Homo sapiens: one gene and its partners. The protein of the gene in region 1 interacts with the protein of each later gene in a biochemical or structural test. Each region holds a gene or a part of one and is shown in the gene's direction. Other genes may lie near its edges.

What was found.
Region 2: of the proteins of KLF13 (region 1) and KAT2B, one has a biochemical effect on the other in vitro, tested with the Homo sapiens proteins (2 studies listed by BioGRID, with this or other methods).
Region 3: the proteins of KLF13 (region 1) and SREBF1 form a complex in vitro, tested with the Homo sapiens proteins (one study listed by BioGRID).

What each region holds. Positions count from the first base shown.
Region 1 is NC_000015.10:31,322,460-31,329,834, forward strand, and holds the start of KLF13 (Krueppel-like factor 13), read left to right. Parts: upstream 1-4,375; 5' UTR 4,376-4,753; coding exon 4,754-5,330; intron 5,331-7,375. UniProt on the Homo sapiens protein: Transcription factor that activates expression from GC-rich minimal promoter regions, including genes in the cells of the erythroid lineage. Represses transcription by binding to the BTE site, a GC-rich DNA element, in competition with the activator SP1.
Region 2 is NC_000003.12:20,099,427-20,106,643, forward strand, and holds part of KAT2B (histone acetyltransferase KAT2B), read left to right. Parts: intron 1-435; coding exon 436-528; intron 529-1,860; coding exon 1,861-2,042; intron 2,043-7,217. UniProt on the Homo sapiens protein: Functions as a histone acetyltransferase (HAT) to promote transcriptional activation. Has significant histone acetyltransferase activity with core histones (H3 and H4), and also with nucleosome core particles.
Region 3 is NC_000017.11:17,812,789-17,820,005, reverse strand, and holds part of SREBF1 (sterol regulatory element-binding protein 1), read left to right. Parts: intron 1-280; coding exon 281-468; intron 469-551; coding exon 552-686; intron 687-771; coding exon 772-993; intron 994-1,631; coding exon 1,632-1,746; intron 1,747-2,089; coding exon 2,090-2,310; intron 2,311-2,414; coding exon of another isoform or gene 2,415-2,458; intron 2,459-2,548; coding exon 2,549-2,750; intron 2,751-2,869; coding exon 2,870-3,048; intron 3,049-3,287; coding exon 3,288-3,549; intron 3,550-3,632; coding exon 3,633-3,799; intron 3,800-3,977; coding exon 3,978-4,146; intron 4,147-4,676; coding exon 4,677-4,785; intron 4,786-5,061; coding exon 5,062-5,171; coding exon of another isoform or gene 5,172-5,258; coding exon 5,259-5,391; intron 5,392-5,595; coding exon 5,596-5,761; intron 5,762-6,074; exon of another isoform or gene 6,075-6,170; intron 6,171-6,236; coding exon 6,237-6,437; intron 6,438-6,460; exon of another isoform or gene 6,461-6,526; coding exon 6,527-6,638; intron 6,639-7,154; coding exon 7,155-7,217.

The sequences.
Region 1 (7,375 bases):
TGTCTCTGGGCTCTAGACTCAGACTAAAAAGGCATGTGAGATGGGTCAGGCCCACCCAGGGAGGGGTAAAATGTATTTCGTGTGTGGGAAAGAAGGGATAGTTAACACCCTTGGGTCCATGCTATCCCTTGTCTTCTGTGCGGCAACCAGCACATTCTAGACAGAGGCTGCTCCATCAACCTGCTGTCCCCAGGTGCCTCCCTATGGACACGCAGCATGGCCAGAAATAAACCTTTGAGCTTTGCAGTGTGGCCCAGCCTCTCCTGACTGATACAGGGACTCTGTTCATTCTACCTCTTGAAGACGTGTTCCTGGAGCTGCCGATCTGCTCCAGCCTGGGCTGCTGACACTCTGCACCTGGCTGGGCAGCTATCACCTGGGACTTACTTTCCCTTCCATCCTGCAATGACTTCCCTGCTTTGTGGATCACGTCTCCTGCTTTCTTGGTTTACATCTTTGTTTTGATGAAGTATAATCTCTGGTGGCTTCCTACTATGAGAAAGGATGCATGGGGGATAAATTTTTTGAAACCTCATGCGTCTGAAAAATACTTGGTTTATAGTTTGGCTGGGTGAAGGCTGGAAAATAATTTTCCTTTACATTTATTTCCCATGGCTTTGTTCCCTTCCTTCTAACTTCAACTGGTTGTTGTGGAGAGGCCCACAGTCATTCTGACCCGACTATCCGTAGGTGACCTGTTTTAATGTTAGGACACTTTTGTCCCCTGCATTCTGAAACTCACCAATGATATGCCTTGGCGTAGAGCTATTCTTTCCCACTGTGTTGGGCTCTCTCCCTTTCAGCATATGTCGTGAAGGCCTCTCTTGGATTAATAATTCATTGACGATTTTCTCTCTTGTGTTTTCTCTGATCACCTGTTTGGGTCCCTACTCATTGATCAATAATTTTTTTGGTTGGTCCACTAATTTAGCTTTTCTCTACTTTCCATTTTTTAAAAAAAATTTTGGTTCTACTTTCAAGGAGGTTTTTTACTTTTACATTTCTGTTACCTTGTAAACATCTCAAGAACACTTTTTTTCCCCTGAATGTTTCTTTATATATGTTCTCCCTTCACAGGTTGTATGTCTTTTAAAATTTAATGACATTATTGATGGTTTTGTTGATGTTTCTTTCTTTCTGCATAGTCTGTTTCTTCCAACTTGCTTTTTAAAAACTCTATTGTGGCTTTGTATTTCATGACACAGGGTTTCCTGAGATGCCGGTCAGCTCTGGCTCCCTGCTTGTCCTTGGCCTGGGAGGGACTGAGAGGCTGATGAGAACTTCTGTGCACATGAGTGGCAGTGTTAACTGTGGCCTTCCCTATAGGGTGAGCTGGCTGTTTAATTGGGCAGCCACAAATGTTAGAATGTCTGGGTGTTTCCCCTTGGCATGGTTGGCTACCCCAGGAAAGACCCTTCTAGTCTCCTGGCTGCTTGCATTCTGAAATCCCAAAAAGGGGTTTGTGGGTCTCAGCATCCAGTATCCATGTGTGTATTTAATCCCCTGATCCTATTACCGTACCTCTGTCCTTAATTGTGCCTGGTGTCCACCTACCCAAGACGCTGCCTTTTAGTTTTTTCAGGTCATAAATATCCAGCCTTTCGTCAGAACAAGGAAGGGGCAGTTGTCAGGCTGCATGAAATTGGGGTGCAGATATGGGCATCTGAGTGCTCCTCAAGCTGACGTTCTGCCAATCTTATTTTCACCCCCGTTTACTCTCACATTCAGAGGTACGTAGTGCCACCCATTAGTGAACCTTCTGGGGGATTCCATGGAGTATGTTCTTAGCTTTCCTTCCTAGCTACTATCTCAGGGTTTCATTTTCTTGGATCTGCTAAGTATTTTAGCTTCAAGAACTGCGTTGCTGTTACTTCCTCTCTTGTTCTCCCTGTCTTTGTGGATTTCTGCCTTCTAACAAATGCTCCAGAAGGAAGTTAAAGTCAATACATACTAACCATCCACCAACTTTACCCAGAAACTCAACCACCCTTTCAGCCTTCAGTCTCTATACGCCCCAGACACACCTGCTCTGCTTTTCTGTTGCTTCCATTTGAAACGAGACGACCCAGCCCTCACATATACATATGCCATCTCTGTCAAAATCTTACTTAGAAAAGAAAACATGGACTCTTAGCTAAGAGGAGATTTTCTTTGGGGAAGAGCTGTCTGTCCGGAAGACCCTTCCATGTAGGTTTGGGATAAAGTCAGTGAACACCACGACAATCATCAAATGAGTGGATTTTTGAGAAACCAGCCAAGGAGCTCAGTTTTCTATACAGAATGCCACAGAGCACAGTCAAAATTCTTTGGGACCCACATTCTTGGAAAACTCTTAGGGGGGTGCATCAATGCAGAGGACCCTTGACCACGTAGGGCATCCCCTCACCCAAGGCAGGCCTGTTTTGTTCATGGCTGTAGTAGCCTAATACTAGAATAGTGCAGACTCTAGACGGCCTACCATTGTGTATGCCGGCTGGGGTGACCCAGTGGGGAGACGTGGCACCTTGAAGATTGGGGAGAATTCTGCTGGCTGGAAAGGGGCCAGGAGGGTATGGGTGGCTGATAAGCTGGTGTAGGACCACTCCTTCCTTAAGAAGTGACTAATTGTGACATGTGGTGGGAATAGAGGAACATTCCGAATCATTACTTGGTCAGGACACACGTCTCTTATTAAATGTCATCAACACAATCTGCCTGGAAGAAACACGATTACTTTCTACCAAGCACAGACCCTCCTAAAGGGACCAGACCCAGTCCAGCACCTTTAGTCTCCCCAGAGGGTAGCAACTCAATCAGCGAGACCGCATTTCAGGGTTTTAGTTACAGATACTGAGGGTGCTCAAACATCCATGCAGTTTGCTGTTCACCGTAACACGCAACCCAGAATGGCCGTTTCGGTCCCTCGTCGGTTACCTGAAAACCAGTCTTACTGAGCTCCAACCCCAAATTAATTTGGTGAGAACTCGAACTCGGCTATTAACCTTAATTCTGAGAGAAGAATGACACCCCCCTCCCACTGCGAGGGTCCACTGAGGGTGAGTGCCCGGGCTCCTTCATTCTCCAGGCTCCTCTCAGAACACAGCAAGGGTGGCTGACTCCTTCGAACGTCCATTAAGCACAATGCAACGGGGCGAGGCAGTAGGGGGTTTGCTGAGCCCGGTTCCGCGGCGGTGGGAAGTTATTCACCGGCGTCTCCGAGGACGGCCCAGGCCTGGAGAATGGCTGGGGCCGCGGGCTGGGGTAGGGGTTACCGTGAGAGTCAAGGGCAAGGTGGCCCAGCCCGGGCTGGGAGGCGCGGGCTGGGCGCAGCCGAGCATTTCCTCCGGGAGGCCCAGACAGCGGGCGGGTGGGGCGCGGTGGGCGGGGTCCTCGCAGCTGGTGGCGTTTGAAGCCCCCCCGACCGCGGTGGGAGAGGGGCAGCCTAGAAGAGTTGGCAGCGGGCCTGCGGCGGGATGGGGAGGAAGGGGCCCCGCGTTCCCTCAGCAGCGGCGCCGGCCGCCCTGGCACGTAGTTCGCTTCTGGAGGCACAGGCCGCGGTGGGCGCGCCACCCGGGCTGCCAGGCTCACCGCCAGCCGAGGCCAGTCCTGCTCGGGCTGACCCGAGCTGAAGGGCAGCGCGGCCGCACCCCGGACCCCAGGAACGAGCCCGAGTCTGTCCCTCCCGCGGGAGCTGCCCCGCCCGGACTCCCGGAGCTCTGCAAGGCAGGGGCGTGGGGAGGGCGAGCGGCCTGAGGCTCTAGGCGCGGCCACCCGGCAAGCCGGCGGCGGAGGGCGCGGCGCGAGTGCGTTCCGCCCCTAGGCAGCCCCGCGCCCGGCCGGGCAGACACGCCTCCCCGCCGGCGCCCATCGCGGGAGGAACAAATGGCGCCCTCCAGAAACCGCTCCCCTCCATGCCGGGGGCCAAGGCTGTCACCACATAAAAGCTCCGGCAGAGAAGTGCTCGCTGTGTCCCCGCCGCGGGGGGTACAAGCAGCCGCTCCGCGCCGCGACTACCCGGCCCGCCGCCCCCGGACGTCATGCGTCAGCGCGCCCCGCTCCAGTTTCCGCCCCTCCTCCCACCGGCCCAGGGGACACGCCCACTGGCGCGCGCAGGGCCCGGGACCGGGCACGCCCCTCTAACGGCTCGGATTGGCCTGGCCGTGCACTCACGGACCAATGGCGTCTGTCCCGGCCCTCGGTCACGCCCCCTTGCCCAGGCGCGGGCACGCGACCGCTCCGTTCCGCCGGTGCGCGCTCTGGGGTCCCCGCCCCCTCCGCGCGCGCAGCTCCCCGCAGCCGCCGCCGCCTGTAACCTGCGCCGCCAGGATGTGGCTGGGGGCTGACGTCGGGTCCAGATGTGGCCCCGGCCCCGCCCACCCCCGGGGCCGGGCCGCCCACACGGAGCCGCGGCGCGCACGGCAGCTGTCCCGCCTGCCACAATGCGCGGCGAAGCTGCGGCCGCGACTTGGCGAGGTGGTCCCTAACGTTGCCGCTCGGCATCCTTAGAACCGGCCGCCCCTGACGCCGCGCGGGGACCCCAGTCGCCCGCGCGCCCCATGCGCTCACTCTTCGGTGCCCGGCCGGGCCGGCGCCTCGCAGACGCGGAGCCGCGCGGGTGACGGCACAGGCGGCTGCGCGCCCAGCCCAGCCCAGCCCAGCCCGAGGAGAGGGCGCGCCGCGCCCCCGCCCCCCGCCCGCTCTCCCGAGGCCGTGGGTGCGGATGCGCGGCTGACGACTCGCAGCAAGAGCACCGCCGCCGGCCCCAGCCCGCAGCATGGCAGCCGCCGCCTATGTGGACCACTTCGCCGCCGAGTGCCTCGTGTCCATGTCGAGCCGCGCGGTCGTGCACGGGCCGCGGGAGGGGCCGGAGTCCCGGCCCGAGGGCGCGGCCGTGGCCGCCACCCCCACGCTGCCCCGCGTCGAGGAGCGCCGCGACGGTAAGGACAGCGCCTCGCTCTTCGTGGTGGCGCGGATCCTAGCGGACCTCAACCAGCAAGCGCCGGCGCCCGCCCCGGCGGAGCGCAGGGAGGGCGCCGCGGCCCGGAAGGCGAGGACCCCCTGCCGCCTGCCGCCGCCCGCCCCCGAGCCCACCTCCCCCGGCGCCGAAGGCGCGGCGGCCGCGCCCCCCAGCCCGGCGTGGAGCGAGCCGGAGCCCGAGGCGGGGCTGGAGCCCGAGCGGGAGCCGGGGCCCGCGGGGAGCGGCGAGCCCGGCCTCAGACAAAGGGTCCGGCGGGGCCGAAGTCGCGCCGACCTCGAGTCCCCGCAGAGGAAGCACAAGTGCCACTACGCGGGCTGCGAGAAAGTTTACGGGAAATCTTCGCACCTCAAGGCGCACCTGAGAACTCACACAGGTCAGTGGGGCGGCGCGGGCGCCCGGATCGCGCGGACGGGGTCGGCGCGAGCTGCCCGACCACGCCCCCGGAGTCCCCGATGGGGCGCGAGGTGGGGGCCGGGCGGGCCGGAACGCCCGGGGCCTCGCCCCTTCCCCTGCCGCTCCGACCCGCGGCTGGCCCCGCGCGTCGCGCGAGGCGGGTCTTGGCTCTCGGAGCCGGCGCCCGCCAGGCGACCGCGCCCCCGCCGGGCACGCCCCCTCCCCGGGCGCGCTCGGGTGGGGCCGCGGGGGCGGATATAGTCATCTGGGCTGGGGGCGGGGACCCCTCCCGGCCGGGAGGCGGCGCGGGCAGGTGCGGGCGGCCTGGGTGTGGACCGCAGGCGGCACTCGTGACGGTGGGGCGCCCGGAGCGGGGGCAGGGGACGCTCTCCGGGGTCCCTCCTCGTTTCCTCCCCCGCTGCCCGGGCGCGCGCTCAGGAGGGGAGGGGCCGGCCCCGGCGCGCGGCGGGCGAAGTTCACGCAGGGACAAGGTTTCCTTCGCCACTCGGCACATTCTTCGCTCTCTTCTTCCTGTAATTTTTCCAGCGCTCTAAGGTTTAATTTGTCGTAACCAAAGTCAGCGGCGGCGCTTGGCGATGCGGGGGGCGGTCCCGGGTCCCGCTCCCCGCCTGCGGCTCTTTGTGGGAGCCCCCGCCCATCCGGCCCGGCGGGGGCGCGCCCGGCCCTAGGCTCCTCGGCCTCGAGGCTCTCTCCGGAAAGGAATGCCCTGGCCGCTGCCCATCCTCCGTGCTGCCCTCTCGCCTGCCCACCTCTCACCTGCCCTGGGCCGGTGCGGGGCGGGCGGCACCTGCACCAGGGCGGGCGCTGAGCCTCCAGCCTGGGGATCACCGCCCGCCCCCGCCAGCCCAGCGGCAACAGTTCCCACGCGCGGCCCGATACTTTGTAGTTGATTCATCTGTGGCGGTTCCCTCCCCCCTTTTTGTTTCGTTTTTAACATAAAGATGAAAATATTTTAATGGACGGCAATCCTTCCCCATTTTGGTGTAAAGAATTGTATGCTTCCTCTGAGCTCACGTGAGTTCTTCTGTGACACTCACCTCTTCTACCTTGGGGGCAGGCTCAAAACCCGTCTACTGAATACTGTTGTCTTGTGACCAAGGGTGGTGGTCTCTCATTTGTAAAATAGTTCACATAGTGATTAAAAGGCATAAAAAGAAGCTGCAGCCTTGGATACCCTAGAGCTGAAGGCCCCTTTTTTTTACCATTTGGAACTGAAAGGGCCCAAGGTCTGCAGGTGAGGCTTTCAGATCTCGGACTAACTTTCCCCAGGGAGGCTTTTGTGGCCGCTCCAAACCACGTGGCAGGTGATGGGGTAGAGGGTGAGAGCGGGGCCATTTCTAGGCATTCGGGGTCAGTTAAGGGTGTGGGGGCTCAGGTTGGGGGTGGGAGTCAGTGTGGGCTCAGAGTTCAGCTCGGGACGCGGCTGCAGGGTGGGTGTGGCCCTGGGGGAGGGGCCAGGCTAGGCTCAGCTCGGCTCCAGGTGGATCCTGAGTATCGGGTGGGGGCAGCGATTGGGGCGTGGCTGGGGTTGAGATCCGCTTTGGGGGATGATGCCCGTGCTGGGCAGGATACTTAATGTTTGGGAAATTTTTCTACGGCCTCTGTCAGGGTGGCCTGCCACTCGGCAGCACCGGTAGCGGGGAATTGAGGAGGGGGGTGGCCGAGGGGAGGGGCTCGCCGTCGTGGGCGGGGCCGGCTTGTCAGGGCCTCAGCCTTGGGATGTCTTCCTGGTGGGTTCATCTCCCGCTTCAGGCTCTGGCCCCGCGCGAGCCTCTTGACTAGAATATTGGCGCAGGGGCTCTGGAGACCCGGGCCTCCCGCTGTAGGTGGGGCCAGTTTCCTCGGAGCGCCTGGAAACCGAAGGCAGGCAAAAGAGCACGGGACCAACCCTTTGAGTGTCTGCAGTGTGCTACAGTGCTCGTTCTTGAAGCAGAGAAACTATTCCACCCTTCAGGTGTGCAGACATCAGAAGTCCTACCTCCAGGGTGGAAGCCGGCCTCCAAG
Region 2 (7,217 bases), on another chromosome or scaffold:
TCCTCTAGAGCTTCAGCACACCTATAGTGGCCTGGATGGGCATGTGCCAAGTGTGTAGGGTTGCATACCAGGCCTCTGGGTCAATGGAAAGCCAGAAACAGTGGGGAGAAGAGGGAAGTGCATGGGACGGTGGTGTCTGTTGGACCAGCATGGGTGGCCTAGGCTGCCCAGAACATGAAAGGTGTCCATTTCTTCATAACTCTGGCCGTGGACATGAAGGCCAATTTGGGTTACCTGATAGTTGCCCATTTTATTGACTTAAGGATTTGTTTATATATAGTTAAGATAAATAGAATATGGTAACTTCCTTTAAAGGCTGTGTGTGTGTGTGTAAGAGAGAGAGAGAGAGACAGACAGAAACAGAAGAGAGAGGAGAGAGAGATAGACATACCAATTAAGTTTTTCTTTTTCTTTTTTTTAATGATTTCTTTGCAGCTCTTGAGAAAGTCTATTTTACAAAGAGGAAAACCTGTGGTTGAAGGCTCTTTGGAAAAGAAACCCCCATTTGAAAAACCTAGCATTGAACAGGTAAAAAGATTTTAAAAGCCCTCTTTTTATTGGCTCAAGGCTGAAGAAATCTTTTAATCCTCCTTTTATATCTCTATCTACGGCTTCCCTCCTCCATACCCAGGTTAGAGATGTTTACCAGTCTGTGGAAATTGTCCTGGAGGCTTTGGATCAGAGGTGTATACCTAATTTAATACATGATCTAGCTTTTGCCTTTTAGGGTTGTTACATACTCACAGTTTACTGTGTGTTTGGGGAAGAAAAACATTAAGTAGAACATGTAGTTTGTAAGAAGAACACATGAAATGTGCTTTTTCTTGTTGTTGGTGCTTTAAAATGAAGTCTTTGTCCATTTGCTTGGCACTGTCTGAGAAAGCCTATTGAGGTGAGGGGATTTAGTAGCAATGTGAAAAACATTGTAAGTCAAGCAAAAAAAGCAAAAAAGAAATGAGATTTTGTACCCAGAAATGGACTTCCTGCTACATTATGATTCCTGGAAAGAAGCCGTTTTACTCAGGGAATCTGTTAAAATGTAAAGAGTTTTTCTGTTAGGTGTTGTCAGTATCTCTCATTAGCATCACTTTTTTAGCCTTTGATTGTTTGGCTAAACAAAAACACTCTGGACTGAATTTTTTGATGAGAATGACTACTGAAGTCATGATACCAGAATCCTTAAAAATAAATGCATTTTTATCAGTCAGTTTTCAGTAAATTTTATTTTGCCTCCAAACTCTATTAAATAAGAATTCATTGCTCTTTTATTTGAAATTAGATGAGATGGAAATATTCTGTAGAAAGATTAAATTAACAGTTTTTTTAAAAGCCCATAATTTTGAATGATATATATATTTTGGTAAGCTTATTGACTTCAAACAAATGATAGTAAAGAGTTTAAATTTTAGTTGTTTAGTTCAGTGGTAGGCATGATAGCAGGTTTTTGATTAGCATTTTTGTAATGTAAAAACAATATTTATCTAAGAACTGCATTATATGTGGGCTACTCTGCTGATAGTAAAGCAATAATTATTCTGCACAACAGTCATATTTTCTTGTTTCAGGGGTTTTGACCTTTTCAGTCCATGGTTTTGATTTTCTCCTTAATGCTTCAGGATTTCAGCAGGCGTAGAATCACAACTCACAGCCTCTCTGTCTTGTCACTTTTCATCCACCGTGATCTGAGGCAAGATTCCCTCTGGGGATTGCTATTTTCTTTTAGGGAAAAGGAAGAGATTTTTGTGAATAGAGAAATGTCTGTTATTTTGCTAATAACCACCAATCATGCTGGCTGTGTGGGTGTTCAGAATTAGTATGATTGCATAGCTGCATGAAGAAATTGCCTTCCCTCTTTTTAAGGGTGTGAATAACTTTGTGCAGTACAAATTTAGTCACCTGCCAGCAAAAGAAAGGCAAACAATAGTTGAGTTGGCAAAAATGTTCCTAAACCGCATCAACTATTGGCATCTGGAGGCACCATCTCAACGAAGACTGCGATCTCCCAATGATGATATTTCTGGATACAAAGAGAACTACACAAGGTAATCAGATGCAAGTTCTTTTCCTTTGGCCCCATAAAGCCTGTTACAGACCTAAAATTGTACTTGACTCTATAAGTATAGGGCTGCCTAGTTATCATTATGACTCCATCAATTCAGAGATAATGTCTTTATAATTTAACTTGCAAACTCCTGCTTTTCATTGCTATCATAATATGTTGAGGTGTGAGGGATGTAAATCATCTATACCCAGTGTGATAGCCACTAGCTATATGAGCACTTGAAAATGTGGCTAGTTTGAATTGAGATTTCTATGATTGTACCAAAAAGGAGTTTAAAATTGCTCATTAATACTTTTAAAATATTGATTACATGTAGAAATGATAGTACATTGGATACATTGGATTAAATAAAATATATTGAAGTTAATTTTACCTGTTTTTACCATTCCAGTGTGGCTACTAGAAAATTTAAAATCCATATGTGGCTTGTGTTATTTATCTATTGAATATAGTTGACTAGATAGCTACACTATAACTCTGAAATTAATTAGAGCCCTCACTCAAAAAATGCAATGACCATATAATGAAGTTAAAGAATTTTTTTTAGGCTGGGCATGGTGGCTCACACCTGTAATCCTAGCACTTTGGGAGTCTAAAGTGGGTAGATCACTTGGGTCAGGAGTTCAAGACCAGCCTGGCCAATATGGTGAAACCCCATCTCTACTAAAAATACAAAAATTAACTGGGCATGGTGTCACGTGACTGTAATCCTGGCTACTTGGGAGGCTGAGGCAGGAGAATCACTTGAACCCTGGAGGCAGAGTTTGCAGTGAACTGAGATCGTGCACTCTGGGCAACAGAGCAAGACTCTGTCTCAAAAAAAAAATTTTTTTTAAAGGAAAGATTAGCTTAGTTCCAGAACTGTGATGGAACTGACATCATTATACATATTATCTTCCAGGTTTTGTCCTTTTAAATAACATTTTACATTAGTTATAATGAAAGAAAATGTAGAATTTTGTAGCCTTTATGTCTCTTCACTTAATATCATATCAAACATTTCACAGGTTACATTATAGTCCATTGAGTTGATTTACCACAATTTACCTAACCATTTCTCTATTGCTGGACATTCAAACTCTGCAGATAGTCTTGGATTGAACATATATTTTCTTCTAAAGTGGAAATTTATTTTTATTGCTTATTACTTGCAGAATAACAGAATTGGTTTTACAAATCTTAAACTTGTACCATACAAAATATAAGGACCTACATTTATTTTCATCTGAAGGACTGTGACTTGGGTCATCCATTCTTTTCAACTTTTTTATAACTTTTCTATAACTTTTCTCTGTTTATATTTCAGAGGCACATCAAGCTTGCATTAGGGAGCTTTAGTGCCTACTTTTTTCCTGATTTAAAGTGGGCAGTAGTATCTTTTGATAGCCTGTCAAGACCACTTGTGCCCAGGTTATTTTCTGTAACAGCAGATAACATGGAAGAATTGTATAATTTAAAATAAGCTTTCCTCTCTGACATTGACCTAGTTTCATGTGTAACACACCCTTTTCCTCTCTTTCTCTTCACTTTTGCAAATATATGCAATTTCAGTTATAAAGTATTTTCTCCTTAATAATTGATATTTATAGGAATTGCAGATTTCTTCAAAATAAGTTTTTAAATTATATCTTCATTTCCGTATCTTTCATTTTAGGATTTTACATTAACAATAGTTCTGTATTATTGAAACTCTGCTATATTATTGAAACTCTTGTTTATAATAAGAGTTGAGACGATAAGTCTCTCAAAAATATGTATTTTTTAATCCCGTCTGTGAACAATTGACAAAGCTGAATATTTGTCAAAGCCAGGGCCCTGAATGCATTTGCGACTTTTAGCAGAGAAAATAATCGTTTCATCAAGAAAAAGGAGAATTAATTGTGAAGCAGCTTGGGAGACATTAGTATATTTTGTTTTATTTTTATTTTTATTTTTTTTAGAGATGGTGTCTTATTCTGTATCCTGGGCTGGAGCGCAGTGGCATGATCATAGCTCACTGTAGCCTCAACCTCCTAGACTCAAGCAATTCATCTATCTCAGCCTCCTTAGTAGCTGGGACTACAGGCACATGCCACCATGCCTGGCTATTTGTTTATTTTTTATAGAGATGGGGTCTCGCTGTGTTGCCCAGGCTGGTCTCAAACTCCTGACCTCAAGCAATCCTCCCACCTTGGCCTCCCAAAGTGCTGAGATTACATGTGTGAGTCACTGTGCCCAGCTATGATATTTTAGAAAACAGAAGAAAAATGCAAGGCAGCCTTTGAGAATTACTAAGAAATTGGTGGCACTTATGAATACTTAAGAAGTAGTAAAAATGGAAATTGGTTTGGATGAGTGCTGGGTTTGAATGGTGTGGGTCCATCTCTCCCTTTTTACATGAGCTTTAGACCAGTCTCTGGTCTAAAGAGACTTTTGGTTTCTTTCTCTGTCCAAGTGTCATGACTTTTGTGAGTATTCCATGGGTGGTTTGTATGTAGTTTCTGACACACAGAGCAGGTGCTGGGAAGATGCTCATCATCATTTTCCTCCCATGCACATTGTTCTCTAAAACTCAGTCACTGCCAATGTGGAGCTTATTAAGCTAAAGCCTTAAATGTATAATTGAGTGAGTGTGTAATTATTTGAATATCGCTTTAGAAATTAAGATAGCAGGGAATAGAAAAACAGCAAAAGAGTCCTTTATAGCCCAGCCTCCTGAGCCAACAGCTGAAGGCAAAAAGTGGAGTCAGACAATGGGAAAGAGAAACTTGCTGAGAGAAACAGAAATGAATATGCCCTAATGAGTTCTGAAACGTGCTGATTTCTAGGTGAAATGTAGACCAATAGCCCCTATTAATAATAAATAAGGAAATGAAGGTAGATGACACCAACCTCCCCCACGTCCCCACCATCACGTCATGTTGATGAGGAAAGGGAAGTAGAGAGGAACAACCTGTGAAAATTAGGAGAATCAATATTCGGAGTAAAACCTCACTGCCATGACCACATGGGGAATTAAAAAAACCACATACCACCACAGCATGATGTCTCACTGATACTGATCTTCTCAAAAATGGGTAATATTACTGGCTGCAGGCACCAGCAGGCTTTATCTTGATGTTGCTGTAAGAGAACCTCAGGACCTATAACGCTGGTTCAGCTTATAACTTACAGCAGTTACTGTAAATATTAGAACAAAGATGTGCCGAAAATGTTTGCAGTATATCAGTCTGAAAATGAAGTTAAACAGGATTCTTTGTGGAAAAGACTGGACTTAGAAAATGATTGTGTTCATTACAGAGCTAACTTGTAAATATTTATTCCATAAAAATTAAAAGCAGACTGAACAGTAGTACTGCTTAAATTACTTCTCTGTTCTGAAGAAAAGAAAAATATAAGTATTCTTTTTTTGTTGTTTTTTTGTTTTTTTTTTTTTTGAGATGGAGTCTCACTCTGTTGTCCAGGCTGGAGTGCAGTGGCGCGACTCAGCTCACTGCAACCTCCACCTCCTGAGTTCAGGCGATTTTCCTGCCTTAGCCTCCCAAGTAGCTAGGATTACAAGTGCGTGCCACCATGCCTGGCTAATTTTTGTATTTTTAGTAAAGATGGGGTTTCACCATGTTGGCCAGGCTAGTCTCGAACTCCTGACCTCAGGTGATCTGCCTACCTCGTCCTCCTAAAGTGCTGGGATTAAAGGCGTGAGCCACCTTGCTCAACCTAAATATTGTTACATAAGTGTATGTTAACTGTACCTTATATATACTCCCAGGAGCAATTGTGGTTATAGAAAAAAATGTGGGCAAATATTTTGAAGTTCCTGAATTTCATGATAGTACACTATTTAATTCCATGAAGAAATAACCTAAAAAGAAAGTGTCACAGGATTATGACTTCTTAAAATACAACTGTCCAACAGTCTGCTGAAGGAAAGTGCAAGTAATTAGTCTTAGATTTTGAATTGTGTAGAACTTTTGAAAGTTAAAGCTTACCCCCACACTGGGGAGATGTTTCATAAGAATACAGAGTGGCTGTGTGCAGTAGCTGATGCCTGTAATCCCAGCAACTTTGGGAGGCTGAGGCGAGAGGATCGCTTGAGCCCAGGAGTTTGAGCCCAGCCTGGGCAACAGAATGAGACTTCATCTCTACAAAAATAAAAATAAAAAACTAGCTGGGTGTGGTGGCATGTGTCTGTGGTGGCATGAGCCTGTGGTCCCAGCGACTCTGGAGGTTGAGGTGGGAGGATTGCTTGAGCCCGGGAGGTCAAGGCTGCTTGGAGCTGTCCATGATCCTACCACTGCACTCCGGCCTGGGTGACAGAGCACGACCCTGTCTGAAAAAAAAAAAAAAAAAAGAAGAAGAAGAAGAAAAAGAATACATAGCAAGTTAGCTAGAACTAACTTGTTTTTGGGAAACAGTTTTATTTAGCCATTCTTCTATGATGTACAGCCTATTGCCATGTATACTGAGCATTCATTATTAGACATGTAAGTCTAGAACAGATTTATCAGGAAGCATGGAAAGAACACTAGGAAACAGGAGATCTGACTTCTAGTCTGGACTTTAATTAAGTAACTGGGCCTCAGTCCCTGTGAACTAGGGCAGATCAGTTTATTCCTGAAAACCACAGGATTTTCAGTTCAGCAAGTCAGTAGAATGACATGGTCTTCTGTGTTCACATTTTTAATTTCTGTTCACAGAAGTTACAAATCATCATCATGATGTGAAAAATCTGGGAGTTATTTGAACAGTAAGAAAATAGCATGCAAATACCATCTTTATTAGACATACAAAAATGAACGAACTATCATTTTGCTTCTTTTTAGTAGACCCGAAATCAGTCATGTAGGTAAAATCTTTTCTACAGTTACTTCTTTGGAGGAATACATGTGCTCATGCACGTCCGTTTCCTTCTTTCTGTCTCACTGTGTGCAATAATAATATCAATCAATTTATTAAAACAACACCAGAAGTACACACACACACACACACACACACACATTCTGTCTCTCTCACACACACACACATTGACTCAGCCTCATTGTCTTAATCTACAGTGAATTTAACAGAGTACAAAATAAGATTAATCTTGGAAGTTAAGAAAAAGCTGAAAAGTATAAATTGAGGTCTATAAAATGACTTTGAGGAAATGAATGAAAGCCCATTATTTGAACATTTT
Region 3 (7,217 bases), on another chromosome or scaffold:
AGGTCTGTGCAGGCTTTAGAAACTGGGGCTCCACTCGGCTGCTTGAGATGCCCTGTTACTAGCAGTCCTGGTGTGCTTGTTGCCGGGGTAGGCGCAACCTCGCACTGGAGGCCTGGCTTGAAGCCAGTGCATTTGCATCAGAGCCCAGGCAGGGACTGTCCATAGGAAGCCACATGGGGCAATGACTCATCCAAGGCCAGTCGGTGATAGAGACCTGAAGAGCAGGTTGAAAGTGGGAGAGGGAGGTCTGTGTCTGCAGCCCCATGCTTTATTTCTGCAGGAAGCCCTCCCGGGAACACCCAGCAGCCGCTGCCTGGCCTGCCACTGGCTTCCCCGCCAGGGGTCCCGCCCGTCTCCTTGCACACCCAGGTCCAGAGTGTGGTCCCCCAGCAGCTACTGACAGTCACAGCTGCCCCCACGGCAGCCCCTGTAACGACCACTGTGACCTCGCAGATCCAGCAGGTCCCGGTGAGGGGGTCTGGCCAGGGGTTGGGGAGGGGGCAGCCCCAGCCCAGACACACAGCTTACAGCCAAGCCTCTCCCACCCTCAGGTCCTGCTGCAGCCCCACTTCATCAAGGCAGACTCGCTGCTTCTGACAGCCATGAAGACAGACGGAGCCACTGTGAAGGCGGCAGGTCTCAGTCCCCTGGTCTCTGGCACCACTGTGCAGACAGGGCCTTTGCCGGTGGGTGACGTGGGCAGGGCATAAGGGAGTGGGGTCTACACACACACACACATGCCCACCTGGTAACATGTGCCTGGCCCTGCAGACCCTGGTGAGTGGCGGAACCATCTTGGCAACAGTCCCACTGGTCGTAGATGCGGAGAAGCTGCCTATCAACCGGCTCGCAGCTGGCAGCAAGGCCCCGGCCTCTGCCCAGAGCCGTGGAGAGAAGCGCACAGCCCACAACGCCATTGAGAAGCGCTACCGCTCCTCCATCAATGACAAAATCATTGAGCTCAAGGATCTGGTGGTGGGCACTGAGGCAAAGGTGTGGAGAGGCCTGCAGGGGCACAGACCGGGGTGTCCCTAGGAAGGAACAGATCAGGGGCAACTGGAAGGAAGAGAGGGAGTGAGACTGAGCCTGGACAAGCAGGGAATTGGAATTCAGCCTCCCCAGGCCTGGCCAGCCTCGTTTATTTAGTTAAACTGGTTTGCAGGCCTCTTCAATAAAGGTGGGGCTGTGCTAGGCATTGGGGATGCAGCAATGAACAAGACAGACAAAAATTGTCCCTCAAAGAAGAGCCGACCTTCTGGTGGGGGAGATGGACAGTAGGCAGGATGAATAAGTGCTCGAGACCACCACGTTTGGCTCGTTGCAGAGAAAGCAGGAAGAGGATGGTGAGGGTCCCCTGGTGGTAGCCAGGGAAGGCCTCCCTGAGATGGCGGCAGGCACAGCAGCAGCTAGCCAGACCCTGCTGTCTGCATCTTACATTCTAACCCTATGCCCGGCCTGGGAGGTGGGTGCTACTAGGCGAGGAACGGTTCAGGTAGAAGGAACAAGTGCAAAGGTCCTGAGGCAGTAATGTTGCAAAGCAGCTCCGCACCCCCTTGCTAGGGCTCTCCAACCCCACAACCCCCGACCTGACAGGCCACCTGTGCGCTCCCCCTCCCTCCCACACCGTGCAGCTGAATAAATCTGCTGTCTTGCGCAAGGCCATCGACTACATTCGCTTTCTGCAACACAGCAACCAGAAACTCAAGCAGGAGAACCTAAGTCTGCGCACTGCTGTCCACAAAAGCAGTGAGTCCTGGCTTTATTGAGCTCCAGTCTGGCCTCTTCTCTAGCCTTGCTCCACCTCCCGGCCCCACCCCATCCCTAGCCCCACCCCACCCTTGGTTCTGGCCCACCCTCTGCCCTGCCCACCTCACCCTTGGCTGTAGCCCTGCATTCAGCTCTAGTCCCTTGGTTACCTCTGGTCCTGAAAGAGACCTGGTGCCTCCCTTTGGCCCTAACCCAGCCCCATCAAAGCGTCCTGGGCTAGCTTTAGGAGCTACAGTAGTCCCTAGGCCTCCAAGGGCCTAGGCTCTGATTTGGGGTCACATATCCAGCCTTTACTCCTGGCTCTGTTCCTTTCGGCCCACAGAATCTCTGAAGGATCTGGTGTCGGCCTGTGGCAGTGGAGGGAACACAGACGTGCTCATGGAGGGCGTGAAGACTGAGGTGGAGGACACACTGACCCCACCCCCCTCGGATGCTGGCTCACCTTTCCAGAGCAGCCCCTTGTCCCTTGGCAGCAGGGGCAGTGGCAGCGGTGGCAGTGGCAGTGACTCGGAGCCTGACAGCCCAGTCTTTGAGGACAGCAAGGTTGGGCCCTGCCACGGTGCCCCCTTCCCCACTCCCAGCCATATCCTCTGAGCCTCATGACAGGGCCGGGAAGACCCTAACAGATCCTACCTCCCATTTCATAGACAGAATAACTGAGGCCTGGAGCCACGTGGGGTCCCACAGTAAGGTGGGCAGAATCCTGACCCCCCCCTTCCCAGCCCCATGCTCTCTGGGGTCCCTCCGATTCTGCCCTCACCACCCTGCCCAACCCCACCAGGCAAAGCCAGAGCAGCGGCCGTCTCTGCACAGCCGGGGCATGCTGGACCGCTCCCGCCTGGCCCTGTGCACGCTCGTCTTCCTCTGCCTGTCCTGCAACCCCTTGGCCTCCTTGCTGGGGGCCCGGGGGCTTCCCAGCCCCTCAGATACCACCAGCGTCTACCATAGCCCTGGGCGCAACGTGCTGGGCACCGAGAGCAGAGGTGGGACCGGCCAGCCTGGGCATCTTTGGGAGGGACACTCGGGGTGAGCCCCCAGGCTTGTGAACTTGGGGCTCTGGATTTCCTGGGAGCTGTGTCCCCAGCTTTCCCTCTGTCCATAGATGGCCCTGGCTGGGCCCAGTGGCTGCTGCCCCCAGTGGTCTGGCTGCTCAATGGGCTGTTGGTGCTCGTCTCCTTGGTGCTTCTCTTTGTCTACGGTGAGCCAGTCACACGGCCCCACTCAGGCCCCGCCGTGTACTTCTGGAGGCATCGCAAGCAGGCTGACCTGGACCTGGCCCGGGTAAGGGGCTGGCCCCGGCAGAGTGGGCAGGGCAGGGACCCCAGGCTGTGAAGGTGCTGGGTGTCAACCCTTGTTCCTGCTCCCTGTGCACACCATGAATCTGTCCCGTCCTCCCTGTGCCTAGCCACGCATCCGCAGACCCCCACCACCCCTCCAGAGCCTGCTGTGGACGGCTCTTCTGAGCTTTGGGGCAGCTGCTCTGACCTCACTTTTCTCACCTGGAAAACCCTCATCCACAGGGAGACTTTGCCCAGGCTGCCCAGCAGCTGTGGCTGGCCCTGCGGGCACTGGGCCGGCCCCTGCCCACCTCCCACCTGGACCTGGCTTGTAGCCTCCTCTGGAACCTCATCCGTCACCTGCTGCAGCGTCTCTGGGTGGGCCGCTGGCTGGCAGGCCGGGCAGGGGGCCTGCAGCAGGACTGTGCTCTGCGAGTGGATGCTAGCGCCAGCGCCCGAGACGCAGCCCTGGTCTACCATAAGCTGCACCAGCTGCACACCATGGGTAGGACTGAGCGTGGGGCGGGCTCCGAGGTGCTCCCTGCTGCCTGTGCTCCACCCACAGCCTCATGCCTGCTTGCCTTCCAGGGAAGCACACAGGCGGGCACCTCACTGCCACCAACCTGGCGCTGAGTGCCCTGAACCTGGCAGAGTGTGCAGGGGATGCCGTGTCTGTGGCGACGCTGGCCGAGATCTATGTGGCGGCTGCATTGAGAGTGAAGACCAGTCTCCCACGGGCCTTGCATTTTCTGACAGTGAGTGGGTTGGGGGGCTGGGGGCTTATCCCTGCAGCTCTCTCCAGAGGCTCCCTGGGTAAGAGCTACACGGGATGTGGCAGTGGTTACCAGGGGGACTCCAGGCCAAGCTGGGACTCGGCCCGGGGTCTGGCCCCAGGCTGTGTCCACTGTGACAGCCCAGTACCCTCCCCTACAGCGCTTCTTCCTGAGCAGTGCCCGCCAGGCCTGCCTGGCACAGAGTGGCTCAGTGCCTCCTGCCATGCAGTGGCTCTGCCACCCCGTGGGCCACCGTTTCTTCGTGGATGGGGACTGGTCCGTGCTCAGTACCCCATGGGAGAGCCTGTACAGCTTGGCCGGGAACCCAGGTGCTCTCTTACCCCTTCCCTGTCCCCTCTCCTGTCCCTCATCCTCATTCCTGTCCTGTCCCTTGTCGCCTGAATCTCTGGCTGTCTCTGGCCACCCCAGTCCTTCTCCCTGCCATGGGTTGTTGCTGTGGGGGTTGCAGGAAGGGAAAGGCCTGGGTGCCTCTCGTTCCCATTGGGGCTTTCAGAAGCACATGCAGGGATTGATGGGCAGATGGCTAATTGGAGAAGTGACCCCAGGCAGTGCCGCTGTGGAGTAAGGAAGCGGAGCCAACAATGGCATCTTCTCAAGTCGGTTTTCCTTTGGAAGCAGTGTAGGGCAGGCCTCAGTGTTGTCTCCTGGCCAAGGCTGGTGCTGGTGATAGTTATGTCCACCCGCTTTCCCCTGTCCTTGGCAGGGGCTGCACCCAGGGGCATGCCGGCACTTCCCAGTGGCCCTAGGTGTGGCCCCAGCCCACCCAGGAAAAAGCCCTTAGCTTGGAGAGGAGGGTGGGGCCCTGCTCCCCACCCCACTCACCTCCTCCTCTCCACAGTGGACCCCCTGGCCCAGGTGACTCAGCTATTCCGGGAACATCTCTTAGAGCGAGCACTGAACTGTGTGACCCAGCCCAACCCCAGCCCTGGGTCAGCTGATGGGGACAAGTAAGTGTCGTTGTGCCCTCCTCCAGGCAAGGCCCCTCCGGCGGGATTCTGAGAATAGCTCTGGCCTCAACCCTGTGGAGAGAGCCCAGAGCTGGGCTACCGTGCGTGCCATGCACGCTTCATTCCTCTCTGAGTTTCCTCTCCCCACCAGCCTGTGGGAGGAGACAGTGGCACTTTGCAGAGCCAGGGGCCAGGCTGTACTCTGGAGGGCAGGTGGGGAGCACCCTCCTAGGACCCCTGCCATCTGTTCCGACAGCCAGCTCTCTCCTTCCACAGGGAATTCTCGGATGCCCTCGGGTACCTGCAGCTGCTGAACAGCTGTTCTGATGCTGCGGGGGCTCCTGCCTACAGCTTCTCCATCAGTTCCAGCATGGCCACCACCACCGGTGAGTCCCCGGCCCCTGTCCTGGCTCCCTTCTCAGCTCCCCCGTGCAGCGTGACTGAGGGTTCAGGGGACCCTCCCTCTTCTGCAGGCGTAGACCCGGTGGCCAAGTGGTGGGCCTCTCTGACAGCTGTGGTGATCCACTGGCTGCGGCGGGATGAGGAGGCGGCTGAGCGGCTGTGCCCGCTGGTGGAGCACCTGCCCCGGGTGCTGCAGGAGTCTGAGTGAGTGCACGGCAGGTTCCTCCTGCCTGGTCCCGGGCTCAGCCTTCCTCATCCCCTGGGCACTGTGCCTCACTCAGCCTTTGTTCTGTGCAGGAGGAGTCACCACCTTTTTTCCTCAGGGAACTCGAGCCAGGGAAGTGGGGGGCACTCAGCCAGGGCTTGTGGACTGGTCTGACTGGCACTCTTCTGCCCTGGTCCCAACAGGAGACCCCTGCCCAGGGCAGCTCTGCACTCCTTCAAGGCTGCCCGGGCCCTGCTGGGCTGTGCCAAGGCAGAGTCTGGTCCAGCCAGCCTGACCATCTGTGAGAAGGCCAGTGGGTACCTGCAGGACAGCCTGGCTACCACACCAGCCAGCAGCTCCATTGACAAGGTGAGGGGTGGGGTCAGGGGCCTGGCAGGGCTGGGGGATTCAGCTTTCCATTCCCTGGTTCCTCTCCCCAGCCCCCAGGGGCTGCAGAAGACCATGGGGTTAGCCCAAGCAGCACAGGATAGGGGGTCCAGCAGACCCTGCTTTTTGGCTAAGGCTTCTGTCCAGAGGAGAGGGGTTGCCCCTATCTGGCCTCAGTTTCCCCATCCCTGGGAGGAGGGGGGTGGATGGTGTGGTAGGATCCCTTTGGAGGCCCTGCATCAGGAGGGCTGGACAGCTGCTCCCGGGCCGGTGGCGGGTGTGGGGGCCGAGAGAGGCGGGCGGCCCCGCGGTGCATTGCTGTTGCATTGCACGTGTGTGAGGCGGGTGCAGTGCCTCGGCAGTGCAGCCCGGAGCCGGCCCCTGGCACCACGGGCCCCCATCCTGCCCCTCCCAGAGCTGGAGCCCTGGTGACCCCTGCCCTGCCTGCCACCCCCAGGCCGTGCAGCTGTTCCTGTGTGACCTGCTTCTTGTGGTGCGCACCAGCCTGTGGCGGCAGCAGCAGCCCCCGGCCCCGGCCCCAGCAGCCCAGGGCACCAGCAGCAGGCCCCAGGCTTCCGCCCTTGAGCTGCGTGGCTTCCAACGGGACCTGAGCAGCCTGAGGCGGCTGGCACAGAGCTTCCGGCCCGCCATGCGGAGGGTGAGTGCCCGATGGCCCTGTCCTCAAGACGGGGAGTCAGGCAGTGGTGGAGATGGAGAGCCCTGAGCCTCCACTCTCCTGGCCCCCAGGTGTTCCTACATGAGGCCACGGCCCGGCTGATGGCGGGGGCCAGCCCCACACGGACACACCAGCTCCTCGACCGCAGTCTGAGGCGGCGGGCAGGCCCCGGTGGCAAAGGAGGTGAGGGGGCAGCTGCTGACCAGGGATGTGCTGTCTGCTCAGCAGGGAAGGGCGCACATGGGATGTGATACCAAGGGAGGCTGTGTGTGTGTCAGACGGGACAGACAGGCCTGGCGCAGTGGCTCACACCTAGCACTTTGGGAGGCTCAGTTGGGAGGACAGCTTGAGCCCAGGAGTTGGAGGCCGCAGTGAGCCTGAGTGACAGGGAGAGTCCCTGTCTCAAAAAAAAAAAAAGACCAAGCATCTTCTTGATGGTTACCTGATGACAATTCCTTTCACAAGGAATCAGTGGGGTGACTGTCATTTGTGGGATACATGACTGCACGTGCGTGACTCAGTCTGTGGACTTTGTGTGTGGGCTGAGACTAGGGTGGGGAGAGGGGAACCCGCCAGGCCCCCGCCAGGTACCTGTGTGCCAGGTACAGGCGGCTGGTGCCGTGGCTTGTGTGTGGGCAGGGCTCCCGCGGGGGCGTGGCCAGCTTGAGACCCATCCCTGACACATCCTCGTGTGCGCAGGCGCGGTGGCGGAGCTGGAGCCGCGGCCCACGCGGCGGGAGCACGCGGAGGCCTTGCTGCTGG